Linked DNA regions of Homo sapiens: region 1 is linked to region 2. The links come from fine-mapping of genetic effects on gene expression. Tissue or cell type: whole blood. Region 2 holds a variant in brackets; the other region holds the start of a gene. All regions are shown on one strand. Distances are from middle to middle.

What was found. PIP is the estimated chance that this variant, and not a neighbour inherited with it, causes the effect.
Region 1: ADGRD1 starts here. The variant in region 2 is fine-mapped to the expression of ADGRD1 in whole blood (TOPMed, PIP above 0.99).

Annotation. Positions count from the first base shown.
Region 1 is chr12:130,949,042-130,957,219 of GRCh38, forward strand. ADGRD1 (adhesion G protein-coupled receptor D1) reads left to right here and starts at 4,866. Exons shown (of 25, transcript NM_198827.5): 1 at 4,866-5,490; 2 at 5,583-5,619. The coding sequence starts at 5,425.
Region 2 is chr12:130,977,259-130,985,436 of GRCh38, forward strand. It overlaps ADGRD1 (adhesion G protein-coupled receptor D1), which reads left to right. Exons shown (of 25, transcript NM_198827.5): 5 at 4,626-4,805. Among named protein-coding and RNA genes, the nearest start is that of ADGRD1-AS1, 13 kb to the right of the region's middle. RefSeq lists an enhancer at 2,288-3,278. The variant CTG/C (reference allele first, on the strand shown) is at 4,859.

The sequences.
Region 1 (8,178 bases), 28 kb before region 2:
TAGGTGGATAAGAAGTAGGGCAGAGAAGATTTAAAGAGGTGAATGAAAGGGGCCCCGTACACAGGCCCTCTTGATTATGTTGTTGACTCTCTCCAGCCTCAGCCCCTGCCACTTTCCCTACTTGTGCCTACTCTTCATTGAATATATAATTAATTGTGGTTTCTCAAATCTGTGTCACTGACCAGGACTCTTAATGACCAGGGACAGAAACCAAGCTCAAACTTGCTTGAGCCTAACATAAATTTCTCGGTGCCTGTCAGGGAATGCTGGCTTTAGGTCTTGTAGGATCCAAGGGCTCAGCTGACAGCATCAGGTTTTCTCTTGACCCTCTCCAAGGCTAGGCGGCTAGAGTCTCTATGTTTGCTTGTTATCTTCAGCTCTGTGTAATTCTTTTCTTTGTTGTGGGAAAAATGGGCATCACCAGCCTTGATTGAAGACCATTCTGGATTAGCAACTGCAGTGGCGGAGGGAGTCTTTTCTCTCCCATGGTCAATCTATTGATCCCGGGGAAGACACTGATTGGTTCTGAGTGGGTCACATGTACACCTTTGGGCCATTCACAGTGCCTGTGGTATGGAGGAGCTGCAAGTGTTCCCACTGGGTCACAACTCCCCCGCAACACCTGCAGCTTCTGACAGTCCCGTCTGAGCTCACGGGTCGGTGGAAGAAACGTCCTTCAAAAGGAAAGCCGACAGGAGCCGGAGGGGAGGCTGGGCTGGTAGAAACAACACACGCCCATGGTCCATGGCATGCTGCATCGGAGCTTTAGCCCATTCCATAGCTTCTTTCCAGAATGTCCCATCCCTTAACCACTCAGAGAAAGAATTCTTGAACTCCTTCGTGTGACTTTCACAGTGAATTCGCCCCCAGGCTTCTAACACCGTTCATTTCCATGTACGTTGTGTGCTGCACACCCCTCCTAGCACACTGCTTACGAACTGCTGCTCCGCCTTGCTTATCTACACAGGAGTAAACGTGATGGACACACAACTCTTGCTGCCTCTCACAAATATGCCGGCGTATGGGAGGGTCTGAGCTGGAGGGAGGCGCACCTTGGATTGGTGTGAATCAGGCATCAGGAACTCCTGTGCTCACAGCTTGTCCAGCTCTCCCTCAGCATTTGGGCCACTCCACAGAATTCTTTGTTCAGGCCCGATCTGTCCTCCTGGGACATCTGAGCTGCTCAGCACCAGGAAACATGCTCTGTTGTGCGCAGGGCATCAGCTTTGCAAATAATCCAGTTACGTTCCCATTGGTAGCTGGCGTCACACTTTATGTCCTTGTAAAATTTTGAGTGGAGCCTAATCACAATGTAAGGTCTCATTTTTAATGTTTAATTAGCATCCTCCCAGTAAAGTCTGAAATATTTTACCAAAGCGTAACAATGTTTTTCATTCTTTAAGTAAAGTACACATGCATGTGGCCCAAAACTATGACTTGAATGTTGAATGTGAGGCTGCCTGCCGGGCACTCCCCACCCAAGCATAGAAAAAAGAAAATCGGGCCGGGCGCGGTGGCTCACACCTGTAATCCCAGCACTTTGGGAGGCTGAGGTGGGCGGATCACGAGGTCAGGAGTTCGAGACCAGCCTGGCCAACATGGTGAAACTCCGCCTCTACTAAAAATACAAAAAAATTAGCCGGGTGTGGTGGCGGGTGCCTGTAATCCTGGCTACTCAGGAGGCTGAGGCAGGAGAATTGCTTGAACCTGGGAGCTCAGTGAGGTTGTGGTGGGCTGAGATCGTGCCACTGCCCTCTAGCCTGGGCAACAGAATGAGACTCCATCTCAAAATAAATAAATAAATACAATAAAATCTTGGGTTCCTTGAAGGGGAATTCCAGCCACCTAGCTAGCCCTGAGAAATACATGAGCAACTTGGGAAGCAAGAAGTTAATAGTGGCGAGAAACAATAGTCAAGAGAGTTAGAGTCAGGAATTCATTGCTTCCCTGTAGAAACTAAAGACAACATCGTAACAAACGACCCGGAGTTGTTTTTCAGAACCTGGACCCCCACCAAATGGATCTGTTGACTTACAGACCTCTGATATGGGGGAGCGGAGAGCTGAACTCCACCACCGTTCTTTGTTCTTTGTTTTTTGAGACAGAGTCTCACTCTGTTGCCCAGGCTGGAGTGCAGTGGCTCAATCTCAGCTCACTGCAACCTCCGCCTCCTGGGTTCAAGCGATTCTCTTGCCTCAGCCTCCCAAGTATCCTCCTGAGTACAGGTATGCACCACCACACCCGGCTAATTTTTGTATTTTTAGTAGAGACGGGGTTTCGCCATGTTGGCCAGGCTGGTCTCGAACCCCTGACCTCAGGTGATCCACCTGCCTCAGCCTCCCAAAGTGTTGGGATCCACCCCTCCGGGCCCACCACTGTTCTTTGTTCTAAATTTCTTCCTGAGGGGCCTGGAGGAGGTCATGCCCACAGGCCAGAGCTAACATTCTTTTTTGCTGATCTCAAATTTTTTGACAAAGCCTTGCCTTCTTAACCAATCACAAATCAGAAAACCTCTGAATCTACTACCTATATGACCTGTGGGCCCCCAGTTCAAGATGTCCTAGCTTTTTAGGTCAAACCAATGTGCAGCCTCCAGGTATTATTCATGTGGGACTTAGCCTGTAACCTCTGCCTCTCCACCTTGAAAAACCCTCCCCCATCAGCCATCGGGGAGTTCAGGTCTGAAGTGTGAGCTGCCAGGTTCTGCTCGCCTGGTGCCCTGCTCTAAATGCCTCACTTCCTCTCACTGCAATCCCGACGTCCATGTTTGGCTTTGCTGCGGGAGGGCAGAGCCAGGCTGGGTTTGGTGACAAACGCTGAGTGCTCACCAAGTACCAAGCCCTGTTCTCGGGGCTGGGGTGCAGAGCGAACAGGCAGAAAGAAGGTCTCTGCTCTCATGGGGCCTACGCCTCGGTGGGGAGAGACTGACAATAAATGAAATAAACGTCTAAGATATGAAGTACATTGGATCGTGGTTAGTGGGATCGAGAAAATACAGCAGGGGAGGGCTTTAGGGGGAGGGAGACCTGCTGTCAAGGTGATGTTTGGGTGCCGAACACCCCGACGTTTGGGTGATGGAATGAGATGCTCAGAGACATCAGAGTTGCTTGGTTCCAGGCCCATGGACCACTCAAGGCCCTGTCTCAAATCTCCAGGCTTCAGGACACGCTGCTTTACATGGAGGCGGGCTCTTCATCTGGGCCTCTGAACAAGGCCTGAGACAGGACGCAGGCAAATAGCATGAGGCACGAGACTGTAGTCCGGGATGGAGAGTCAGAGTGAGTCTGAGGATGAGTGCAGATGCCTGCAGGGCAAGCTCTGCTGAATTGCTTTGCTATCTAGTTTTTATTACAGTCATTGAATCGGGGTGTCTCCCATTATCTGATGACAATTTTATGATGAAAAGAAACCATGCTGGCTTTGTTCGGTCATGGAGATGGGAAAGGTCCGCATATTCAGCAATCTGTTGAATTCTTCCAGGTTAAAACTGGAGCTGAGAAAAACCTGCAGCTGCCTGTCCCTCCCTTCACCTCTTCCAGCGAGAGGCAGTGGGGGACTGGAGAGCTGATGAAATGGCAGAGATAAAGGTTGTAAATTAGTTTTCCCTGAAGCCGACCAGCCTGAGCAACAGGATAAAGGTCGTTATTACAGACAGCCCCCGGCCTTTGGAGTTCACAGTTTCTCCATTGCTAGGAGATGGAACTCTCTGGAACCCTTCTCCAGCTCCACAGAGAGGCTCAGGCTATCAGAGGATCTGAGCGGTTGTAGGCTGCAGGCACAAGTTAAAAATAATCACCTAACGTTTTGACAGCACTTTCTTTTTTTCTGTCCCACAGAGATTGGAAGTCATTTTCTTATCCTCTTTAGGAAGTATGTTGGATTCAGGATTCTTAATTCCCATTTAAAGTCAGGACAATTGAGATAACTGTATCAGCTAACATTTACTGGGTGTTATGTTATACTTGCTAATAATAATCATAGCTAACATTTACTGAGTGATAATTTTTCTTAATAGAAAATAGCAGCATTTACTGAGTGCCACATATTTTCCAAGTACTGCCTGAAGAGCCTTGGATCTGTCCTCTAATTTATTGTTACAGCCCTGAGGAGGAGGAACTATTAACCCCCATTTTGTGGATGAGGAATTCGAAAACTAAGAGAGATCAAGTAATTTGCCTAGGAGCACAGCTGGTGAATGTTGGAGAAAGTATGAAGCGGTAAATATTACTTAAATCACATAGCAAATATAGCTGTGACTGCAATTCTAGGGTGTGTGTCTCTGTGTGTCCACGTGTATTTGGAGTAGATCGGATAAACTTTGGTCTTGGGTAAACTGAGGCATGTCTGGCGAAGGGGCTGACTCTTTTCTATCCCATTGAGAACATCCTCCTGGTGCTGGGGTGGGGGTATATGTGGGATGGTGTAATTGCGCAGCGTACCTTGTAATTAATTCCGTAGCTTTCACTGACGTCCGAAAGGATTAGAGAGAAAAATGTGGTCAGCGCTTAATATGGAGGGCACAGTGGGTGTGCTGCTTTCTCTTTTCCATCCCTCTGTCAACTTCATTCTCTTTTGGGGGCAAACAAGACTCAGATCTAAACAGAGTTTATGGTTTGTTTTGCATTTTGTATTTATTAATATTTATGCCGACTTTGAAGGTGCTGACCAGAAGGCATCAGTAACACACACACGCACACGCACACACACCACACACCATGTCTGTTTGGTTTGATTCTGAGCCTGAGATCCTGGAAATATTTCAGCTGTTGTTAAGAGGCTGGAGTTAGGACCCAGGAAGGACACAGCAGTGGGGATATAAATAGAAAAGGAGAACAGAACAAAGTTTGAGGAGAGAGACTTACATCACTCACTCCCCCTCCACCCAGAGAGCAGGACGGAGGTGTGAACTTGAGCCAGACCAGAAGGAGCTCGAGAGCGGCCGCAGGACAAGCCCGAGGAGCAGGCGGGCGCTCCAGGGGAAAACCACGCACAAAACCTTCTTCAGAGAAAAGGGAAGCTCCAAACCTGACTGAGACAAACGGAGGCTCTTGAAATAAAAAGAAAATACCGCAGGACAAACAGCCTCCCGTCCCCGGGCGCAGGTCGCGGTCACAGTGGTGACCTGGGATTGCTTTCCCAGGACTGCGAGTCGGGTTTGGGTTTCTCCTCCCTGCATTCCACAGCTGCTCTGGTCATCGCAACGTGTTTATTGATCACTGAAGAATCTCAAGTTTTGAGACGAGGAAGAAACACCCATTAGGTCTCCAAGACAGCTGTGTTTCACAAACTTTAAGGAGACAGAAATTTTCTCCCCTGGAACCTGTGAAAATGTCCCTTTTCCAAGGAAGTGAAGGTTAAGAGGTCCCGTTCTCACAGACCCTCAGGAATTTCACTTGGCTCCGAGCTTTGACCTCCGAGAGAGCCATGGAAAAGCTGCTGCGGCTGTGCTGCTGGTACTCCTGGCTGCTGCTATTTTATTACAACTTTCAGGTAATGTCCCCAAGTGGCCAGGATGGCGACAGGCTTGGTTTCTCCGGAGGCTTTCCCTGAGTGTGTCTCACACTGTGGTCTTTTGTGCGCAGGTGCGTGGCGTCTACTCCAGATCGCAGGACCATCCAGGTAAGAGTGTTTCCTTCTCACTCTGAGCACCGCTCTCCCCCTGCCTAGTGCAGGTATCTCAGGAACAGCCCACTTGTTCATCTCTGAGGCATCAGCGAATGGCCCTTGTTGGGCTCCTGGTCCCCGACCTCACTGCCTCACCACACACTGTGACCCTGGGCAGCTCTGCTACCCCTCACCGGCTGAGCGGTGGATGGAGAAGTGGTTCTGGGCCCCTTGAGCTGGGTCATATGAAACATTGTGATTAAGGAAATATGATCTTCATTTGAATGCCTTCTGCCTCTTTCTTTCTCTCTTTCTCTCTTTCTTCCTTTCTTCCTTTTTTTCTTTTTGAGATGGAGTCTTGCTCTGTTGCCCAGGCTGGAGTGCAGTGGCCGCAACCTCTGCCTCCCGGGTTCAAGCAATTCTCCTGCCTCAGCCACCTGAGTAGCTGGGATCACAGGTGTGCACCACTACACCCAGCTTTTTTTTTTTTTGTATTTTTAGTAGAGACAGGGTTTCACTATGTTGGCCAGGCTGGTCTCGAACTCCTGATTTCAGGTGATCCGCCCGCCTTGGCCTCCCAGAGTGCTGGGATTACAGATGTGAGCCACCACACCCATCTCATGTCTTCAGGGCAGATTCACTGGTGGGGAGTTGGAGCTCTGGCCCATAGCAGGGTCTCGGGACCTCCAGCCTCAGAGTGCTGACCAGCTTAGCCTGGAGCAGCCGATGAGTGGGACTCGGGATAGAGGGCCACCCTTGCTCCAGCCCCAGAGCCACATTCCATTGGCCATTGTGACACCCAACCAGGAAGCATCAGGACGGGGCTTCTCTCGGGAAGACAGGGAGGCACACACCCTTCGCTGTTAAGAGTGTGGGCACACGTTCTGGTCAGCCAGGGGCAGGGATGGGAAGACGAGGCTTTCTGGGAGCAGCAGGCAGTCACTGGGCTGTTGCTCCCTGCTGGAAGTTGCAGGAGGTGGGGAGGAGACCCTGCTAGTGCCTGAACCCCTGCTGGGAAGCCTGTTGTGAGCACAGCCTCTGCCCCCGCCCCACCAGAGCTTGGCTGGGCACCCCCCCGAGCGCTATTGTATGGCCCTGCCTGTCTCTGATGGGAAATCAGCCTTTTTAAAAAAATTATTTTTGTTTTTATTTTTTGAGACAAAGTCTCACTCTGTCACCCAGGCTGGAGTTGAGTGGTGAGATCTCAGTCTCGGCTCTCTGCTACCTCTGCCTCCCGGGTTCAAGCGATTCTTGTGCCTCAGCCTTCCAAGCAGCTGGGATTACAGGCCCATGCCACCACGCCTGGCTAATTTTTGTATTTTTAGTAGACACAAGGTTTTGCCATGTTGGCCAGGCTGGTCTCGATCTCCTGACCTCGGGTGATCCAACCACCTCGGCCTCCCAAAGTGTTGGGATTACAGATGTGAGCCACTGGGCCTGGCTGGGAACCAGCCTTTAATGATCAACCACAAATGGACTCAGGCCAGCACTGTGGGCAGATCCCAGGGCGATACCCAGGCCTCCAGGGAGAGCCCCTTTCCTGGATGGAGCACCAGGAGCCTGCTGGGGTCTAGGGCCAGGGGCTGTGCCCTCAGCCTCTGTCTCCTTTCCGGCTGCCCGGCAGCCCCATGCCAGGATGTTCCAGGCATCGTCGCCTCGCCACCACCTCCATTCACCAACTCGGGGGTGGGGACGCTGCCACTTCTGTTTCGTCCACATGCATAGGGAGCTCCTTTTAAAAAGGTGTGGAAGCTGTGAGTTTCCACACATTCCCCTCTCCTCAGCCAAATCGCTGAATGAAACAAGGGCTCCTGTGGCTTGGGAACGAATAAACATGCCCAGCGCTGCGTTAAAGAGAGGACGTGTCCACCTTGGACACCTTGCTTCTCGTGAATGCAGGCCTCATGGCTTGGGCTGGGCTCCAGTAGGGGAGAGGACTGAGAGGAGGAGAGGGGTAGCCCCTCGAACTGCAGGGCGGTCAGGCAGAGCTGTGCACCCGGCTCCTGCAGCAGGCAGGTGGCCCCCGAGGCCCCAGCATGGCCCTCACTGCTGCTCAGTGTTGGAGAAAAGCTGTGCGGGTTCTCCCCGGACTTCTGCTTATGATACAGAGCCCACACGCATTCTCACACATGCACATGTGTCCACATGCCCCCCCATGCTACATGTCTACATGTGTCAACATATGCCCACATGCACCAACACAAATCACACACATCCACACATGGTGACACATATGCATACACACACACACCAGATGTCTACATGTGTCAACATATGGCCACATGTGCCAACACACATCACATGTCCACACACCACTCACATCCATACACATCAGACATGTTGACACACATGCATACACATGCAAAAGCATCCACACATATGCACACACCTGCATGCATCAACATGTGTCCACATGCATCCACACATGTGTCCACACAATTCACATGTGTAGACACACATGCACATATATACACATCCATGCACACACCCACACCCACATGTGCCAACACATGTCTACGTGCATCAACATACATGTATTTACACATGTTCACACATGTCCACACATATCCACGT
Region 2 (8,178 bases):
GTGTGGCTTTGTTAGAGGAGCAGGGAAAGGGGAAAGGGAAGAATTTCTTATTCCCATGGGGAAAGTGGGTGTCCTACAGCCCCAGTCATTTCAGGAAGCGATTAGAGTGGGGCTTTGGGGTGGGGGTGTGGAGTGAGAATTTTAAAGGCTCGATATGCAAACGAGTGTCTCCTCCTGGCCACACCAGGCACAGGGCCCATGAGGCAGCCGGGAAACGGGCTCTGAGTCTTGCGTGAAAGCGTATGGGACGCGCATCCTCGTGGCTCTTTGGGAAACGTGGTGGGCCACAGGCTGGTCCGGGTGCCAGAACGGCCATCAGACCCTGTCCCTGCCTTGCTCCAGCTCTGTTCTCAAGGCTGCTTTCCTGGTGTGGGAGCAGCATCCGCTCAGAAGCTCCAAGTTCTGGTTTTGTCAGGTGAGCCTGCCCATGCCTGGGTCAGTCCTGGTGATTCTGATAGGCCCAGCCCGAGTCAGCCTTCAGCTGTGTGGTCTGTGGTGACTGGGGTGTGGGTACAGACGCCAGGCGGGCCCGCATGCCTGTATAACCTCGCGCCCTCCTGGGCCGCTGCTTTGTTGGCATGTGTTGATCATGCTCTTGCAGGGTGCTGAGTCTGTGGGCCTGGGAAGGGCAGCTGCATGCATGATCTCCAAGGGAAGGGCGGGAGCCACAGCACAGTGATTACAAACGCAGACTCCAGATCCAGGCTGCCTGGGTTCAAATCCTGACTCGTCCCAGACCAGCTGTGTGGCCTTGGGCAAGTTACCGCACCTCCCTGTGCTTCAGTTTTCTCCCCTGTGAAATGGGGACAGTAATGACCCCTAGTTCACAGGTTGTTGGGAGGATTTAACCTCAGCCCATATAAGTTCTCCTCACCTGCTAGAAATCATCCTTTGTCTTATGCCGTGGTCTCTACATATGAAGGGAATTAACTTCTCATCTAGTAAATCTGTGACAAATATTCTTTCCCTGGATGGTTGTCTGTCTTTGAGTTTGTTACGGTAATTTTTTTTGCCTTGCAGAATATTATATTTATGCACTTAAATTTATTAGTCTTTTCTTATGACTCCTAGATTTTTATTTTTCCTTTTTTTGTCTTGTCAAAAAAGATCTTTCCTCATTTTATTTTTTGGATGTTTTAGGATTCAGTGCTTATAACAAGAAAAAATTATCAAATTAGTTTGTCAATATTGTGCTTGTTTCTTTTTCCTTCAGATTTTTCCTTGTTGTATTGATGGCCCAACTCCATGAGGCAAAGTTCCTTAAAAGGCTAATATGGAAGGCACATTGTGAATTTGTTATGACTCTATGAAGACGTGAATTGATACTTAAATATAAGCTGTTGCTCAGGTAGAAGTCATTGTTTTGTGCGTTGAGTTAACTAAATGAAAAGCTTGGTTACCGGCACCATGGATGGCCTTCGATCTACCCTTACCTAACACCACATGGAATTTTTTTATTTTTATTTTTCTTCCTGAACAGAAAGACATTTGGCCAAGACAGGCTCATTTTGAATTGAGTGAAAGAAATTTTAAAATGCAGCAAAGTTTTTGGAAAAAATTAACTTCCATGAATCCTACTGGGAATTTGTTTCATAACAAAAATTTCACAACGCACTGTGCTGACTTCCTTGTGAAACGGGTTGTTTCTGAGTGTGCAGGGAAGTGGCGGGAGGCTTGGGGGTTTGTCCTGGCTTCTGTACCCCTCAGCGCCCAAGGCAGGGAAGTGGCGGGAGGCTCGGGGGGTTGTCCTGGCTTCTGTACCCCTCAGCGCCCAAGGCAGGTGTTGCAGGAAGCCCGTTCATGAGGTGGGTGTGGGTGGTGCCAGCCAGGTCTGGGGACACCAGCGTCAGCTGCCCCAGGCCTCTGTGCAACCCCCACAGTCGCACCCTTTTGCGGTAACCCACATTACTGGGCACTCGGGAAGGCTGTTTTCTTTCCCAGGAGCCCTAAGGACAGATGCCGCAGGGCTTGGAGTTGTACCCCGTAGCCTCTCAGAGGTCCAGAAAGGTCCAGGCCTCTTCCAATTTTTTTGAGGTTCTTCTTCTCTTAAAAAATAAAATGGGGAAATTCCATACCAGGGTTATAAAATGTATGCTGTGTTTTTCCTGAATCCTGCGAGGGCTTTGAACTCACAAAGGTATAGTTGTCTTGATATATTGTCACAAGACATTTGAAGGACTTCTAACAGATATGTTAATTCATAAGGCATCACAGAAAGCATGGTGGGCAATGAGACACTGCCTTATACACGAATGACAAATGTCTTCTTTGAATTCAGTGACTCTCTAAGACTGTGTCCATAACCTCATGTGAAGGTAAGGTCTAAAGTCTAAATTTGGCACCATTTATAGAAATAAAGCCCAGGGCAAATATCCTTCTGCCTCTCCCCTGCACCCACCGTCCCATCATGGGCCTCTTTGGACCAGTTCTGGGCACGTGTTCTCTCTCAGCACCACTGAACCCTCTTACCCATGTGCCTGGGCCAGGCTTGGCGGGGGTGAGGCAGCTGGATGTATTTCCAGCTGTCAGGGGCAGAATCCAGACAGGCAGCTAGTGTCTCACACACACACACACACACACACACACACACACACACACACACACTGGAGTTTACACACAAAGAAGGGCCAGGTGGGCAGATGCTACTGGAGGCAGAGAAGTGGAATAGAGACAACCAGAGCTCCAAAATGCAACGCCAGAGAGGCCCAAGCTCCACAGAGCCTCCAGCCAGGCCCTGCCCTGACTTCCCCTTCAGCAGAGAGCCCGGCCCCCAGACCAGTGGGTGTGAGTGCAGAACAGCGGTCGGGGTGGGTGCGGGGCATGCTCAGGAGCTGGGCTTTTGCGGTTCCTCTTTTTTTTTTTTTGAGACGGAGTCTCGCTCTGTCGCCCAGGCTGGAGTGCAGTGGCACAATCTCGGCTCACTGCAAGCTCTGCCTCCCGGGTTCACGCCATTCTCCTGCCTCAGCCTCCTGAGCAGCTGGGACGACAGGCACCTGCCACCACGCCTGGCTAATTTTTTGTATTTTTAGTAGAGACGGGGTTTCACCATGTTAGTAAAGATGGTCTCGATCTCCTGACCTCATGATCCACCCGCCTCGGCCTCCCTAAGTGCTGGGATTACAGGCGTGAGCCACCATGCCTGGACCCTCTTTTTTTTGAGACAGAGTCTTGCTCTGTTGCCCAGGCTGGAGTGCAATGGCGTGGTCTCGGCTCACTGCAACCTCTGCCTCCGTGGTTCAAACAATTCTCCTGCCTCAGCCTCCTGAGTAGCTGGGACTACAGGTGCATGCCACCACACCCGGCCAATTTTTATATTTTTAGTAGAGACGGCATTTCACTATGCTGGCCAGGCTGGTCTCAAACTCCTGACCTCAGGTGATCCACTTGCCTCGGCCTCCCAAAGTGCTGGGATTACAGGCGTGAGCCACCGCGCCCGGCCTGCAGTTCCTCTTATAGTAAAAACATGGAGAAATCCCACATGAGGATCATAAAAATTACATTGTTTTTCCATGTTTACATTGATCACAGTAGGACTTTGCACCCACAAAGGTACAATATCTAATTGTCATAATTTACTGTAATATACTGCCACAACACATTTGAGGTATGTCCTATCTGCTGCTGGTGGCGGAGGCAACATGAACTAATGAGCCAGCTCATTCATGCTAACATGCGTCGCTCAGACCATTTAGTCCAGGTGCAATCCCTCCTCCCCCGCAGCGTGGGCCTGGGGTCAGGACTTACCACGAATGTGCAGACTAGAGTCTTGAAAAAGGTTTCAGCTGCTGCCCCCTCTGTATCCAACTGCGGGAAATGAACAATTGAAGATATCAACAACCTTAAAAGTGTGCTTCCCTTTGGCAAGAAATGCCCTCTTGGGAATGTATCCTAAAGGCATATAGTCTGAGATATGCAAAAGAATTTGCTTCAAGTTCTGTTTGAAAATTTCTTCAAAAAGTGGAAGAAAACCTTAAGATCCAGCAACAGGGGATTGCTGTTTAAAAAAAAGACTGTGGTGCTTGTTTAGAATGCGCCGCTGTGCAGACATAAAAGTGACAACGTGACAGTGTATTTATGGACATCGGAGGAAGTTCACGGTGGAGTAAACTTTATAGAAATGTTGTTTATAAACCAGTGTGCCTGAGATGGTTCGTGTCTTTGTAAAATCTATTTATAGAAGAGGCTTAGGAAGGAGCCGCCCTAACCACATTTCTGGAGGAATAGGAGAGAAACCTGGAGGGTGTAGGTCTTCACATTTGCATGATCCCGGGGAGTGGGGGCGGGGAACTGCCTGGGGCTGCAGCGATCTTCATCAGTCACTGGTGACCTTGAGTGAATGAGCCTCAGTTCCTTCATCTGTATAGTGGGGATGAAGCAGGATTTTTGTACTTTTTAAAAGGCGAGAATTCATTTCAAACTCCTAGAAAAGTGCCTGGCACTGTGTGAGCCCTTAATAAACATGAGCAAATATCACTGTCTGGATTTTCTGAACTGAACATACACTGCCTTTAGAATGGGGACAAAATGCTTTTCGAATGAAAAATAAAAAGCAAAGAGAACCATGTGCTTGCGAGAAGTCAAGTCCCCTGCTCTCTGTGAATAACTGATCTTGTGACTTTCCTCAGGGGTCACGTTTTCTTTTTTCTGGAAGACACAAGGAGAACAGTCTAGACCAATCCCTTCTGCGTATGGGGGACAGGTCATCTCCAATGGGTTCAAAGTCTGCTCCAGCGGTGGCAGAGGCTCTGTGGAGCTGTATACGCGGGACAATTCCATGACATGGGAGGCCTCCTTCAGCCCCCCAGGTGAGTGACAGCATCGGTCCCGGGAGGCTCTGCCTGGAGGAGTGGAGTCTTCT[CTG/C]AGAATGGACGCTGAGAAGCCCAACGCAGCCCAAGGAGCCCAGGGATGCTGCTGCCTCCTGGCACCCGAGCTCCTTTCCTTTAAGGGTTGTTGGGGAGGTGCATGGGGAGAGGCAAGGAGGTGCCCTTGGTAAGCCGCCTTTGGTTGGTGCAGAGCCTGGGCTCCGTCTGCCCGTGCACTGTGTGCCTGCTGTAGGTTACCTGACCACACTGACCTCAGTGATCACACCTGTGATGTGCAGATGATATTGACAGTACTTACCTCACGGTTTCCAGGACATTAAGCTGAAGATATGGTGTGCAAAGTGCAAGCAGTGGTTACATTTCTCCTTCTTTTCCTTCTCATTTTCCCTCTTCCTCCTCATCTGCCTCCTTTTTCTCTCACAGTCTTTGTCTCTTCCTCTTTCTCTTCCTCCCCCTCCTCTTCTTCCTTCTTCTTAGTGGTATAGACTTGAAATTGTTTAAAGCATGACGAGAAGAAGCTTTTGGAGAGAGAGGCTGAAGAATCGGGGAGCAGAGGAAGGGGCTAGGGGAGAGCGCATGAAGCACTGGACTGTGCGTGGTCTTGGAGGAGGGAGGGGCCCTGGATGTGTGGGAAGAGAACAGGAGTCCCTGCACATTGGCTGAGTTTGCAGGTGGGTGTTGAGACATGGACGTGGGGCAGTAGGCTGCAGAGGCTGACGAAGGTCTGAAGTGGAAGCTGGAGAAGGGGAACAGGTGGCTGGGGACACAGAAGGACTCAGGGTGGCATGGAGTGGGGGCCAAGTCAGGACTGGAGCCCAACAAGGGAAGGGCAGAGGTGGAGGGGGCAGCACAAAAGCCTAGGATGATCTCCTCCGGTAGGAAACATCTTTGATGTATTTAAGGGAAATCCATTTTCTGGCTCATTCTTAAGGGAGGCTGCATGGCCCAGTTATTAAAAAGCGTGAACTCTGGACCCAAACAGGCTGGATCAAATCCCGCCTCTGGACGTTGGTAGTTGTGTGAACCTGGGCACCTTCCCTAACTGCCCTATGCCTCAGTTTCCTCATTCATAATATGGCAGTAATAGCAGTATCACATCATAGGGTGACTGTGAGAACTAAGTGGGCTGCTAGGCATAAAGCGTGGAATGATGGCACAGTGGGCCCAGAAGGTGTTTGCCTTCTTCTGTGGATGCTCGGTGTGCTCGGACCAGCTTGTACCTCCACCTCTGTAAAGTGGGGCAGTTCAGCAAACATCTACTTCAAATTTGCCCTCTGTGATCCCTAAGGTCAGAAATAATCTCTGCCTCCCTCCCCTGACACAGAACCATCTGAACCTTTTCCGTGACCTTCCTGTTCCACTTGCTATCAGAGTCCGATTGTAAGCAGCTTATCTCTCTGCTCCTTGGGGCTGGTGGAACGTGGTTTCAGGCATCCATTAGGTTCTTTGACCTTGAACAAAGGTAAAGTATGCTCAACTCTGGCTGCTTTTCCACCCAGGGAAAGGGCGAGAATTAGAAACACTTCTGGCTGGCAATGTGCTCTCTTTTGTGCATTGAAGGCGTTTGTTATTCTTACTTTCAAACTCAGGGGCAATAATACTTTGGACCAACCTAGGGTCCAAGCGTGCTCCAGAGACTCAAAATTATCAGAAAGTTGCACAATCTTGAGCAAGAAGCCCTGATGTCATTCTGGGTGATCTAAGATGCATAGCTGGCTAGAGGTGATGTGTGTCCTTTAAAAGGGCTGCCCTGTTCCTTCCAGCAGCAAGCTCAGGAGGACAGCTTACCACACATGCTGGCAGAACAAAGGGAACCTTTGTGGGGGAATCAACAGTCAAAGTCTGATGAACATTCTTGTTGATGAGCGTGGTTCTTGTGCCAGAGAGAAGAGTAACACAAATGCTGGTTGATGGAGGTTCCTGAATGAGCAGGGAGGTTGGTCTTCCCTCTACCAACTCACTCCCATGTTGGTTAACATTATACGCCCTCGCTTAGAGCACAGGCTGATGCCAATGGCCTGTGGGCTGAGTTGGGTCCTCAGATGGGTTTTATGGTCCTATATTGTGATTGCCTAGGCCAAGTTTGTAAGAAAAATATTTGGAATGATTTACGATCATTAGTTATGATTTTATTTTAAAATTAAGATTTTCCAATTTCTTTTGGAAATAAAAAGACTGGCAAGGCAGGCTCTTCATCTCTCATGTTACTGATGGGGGAGGTGAGTAGGGGCCACCTCGTGATGGGGCAGCCGCCCTTCCACGCACTGCAGTCAGCACAGAAGCCACGTCCTCAGGGAAAGCTCGTTACTGTGCTTACCCGCTCCCTGGCCTCTGCAGACTGGGTTGGTGGGCGCCATGGAGTGCCTGTATTGCTGTTAGATTTTAATAGATTTTATTTTTTAGAACAGTTTTAGATTCACAGAAAAATTGAGTGCAAAGTTCAGAGAATTCCCATTACCCTCCGCCTCTACACAGGCACAGCTTCCCCCACTATGGACATTCCCCCACCAGAATGATCCATTTGTTACATGTGATGAACCTACAGTGACACATCATTGTCACCCAAAGTCCATAGTTCACATTAGCATTTGCTCTCGGTGTTGTACATTCTATGGGTTGGTGAGGTTGATCTTTCGCCCATTTTAAAAATTGGATTGTTTTTCTTTCTTTTTTCCTTCCTCCCTTTCTTCTTCCCCTCCTCTCTCTTTTCCTTCTTTCCCTCCCTCCCTTCCTCCCTCCCTTCCTTCCTTCCTTCTTGCCTTCCATCCTCCCTTGCTCCCTTCCTTTCCTTCTTTCCTTCCTTCTTTCTTCTCTTCTCTCTCTCTCTCACTCTCTCTCTCCTCTCTTCTCTCTTTCTCTCTTTCTTTCTTTTTCTTTCTGACAGGATCTGTCATCCAGGCTGGAGTACAGTGGTGCAATCACAGCTTACTGCAGCGTTTAACTCCAGGGCTCAGGTGATCCTCCTACCTCAGTTGCCCAAGTAGCTGGGATTACCGGCATGTGCCACCATGTCTCACTAGTTTTTTTTTTTTTTTGGTACAGGTGAGGTCTTACTTGGTTGCCCAGGCTGGTCTCAAACTCCTGGCTTCAAGCGATCCTCCCATCTCAGCCTCCCAAAATGCGGGTCGTTTGTTTTCTTACTGTTGAATTTTAAGAGTTTTTGGGTGTATTTTGGATAATAGTCCTTTATCATGTCTTTTCCAAATATTTTCTCCCCATCCGTGACTTGTCTTCTCATTCTCTTGACAGTGTCTTTCACAGAGCAGACATTTTTAGTTGTAAGGAAGTCCAGCTTGTCAATTATTTCTTTCATGGATTGTGCCTTTGGTGTTGGATCTAATAAGTCATCACTAAA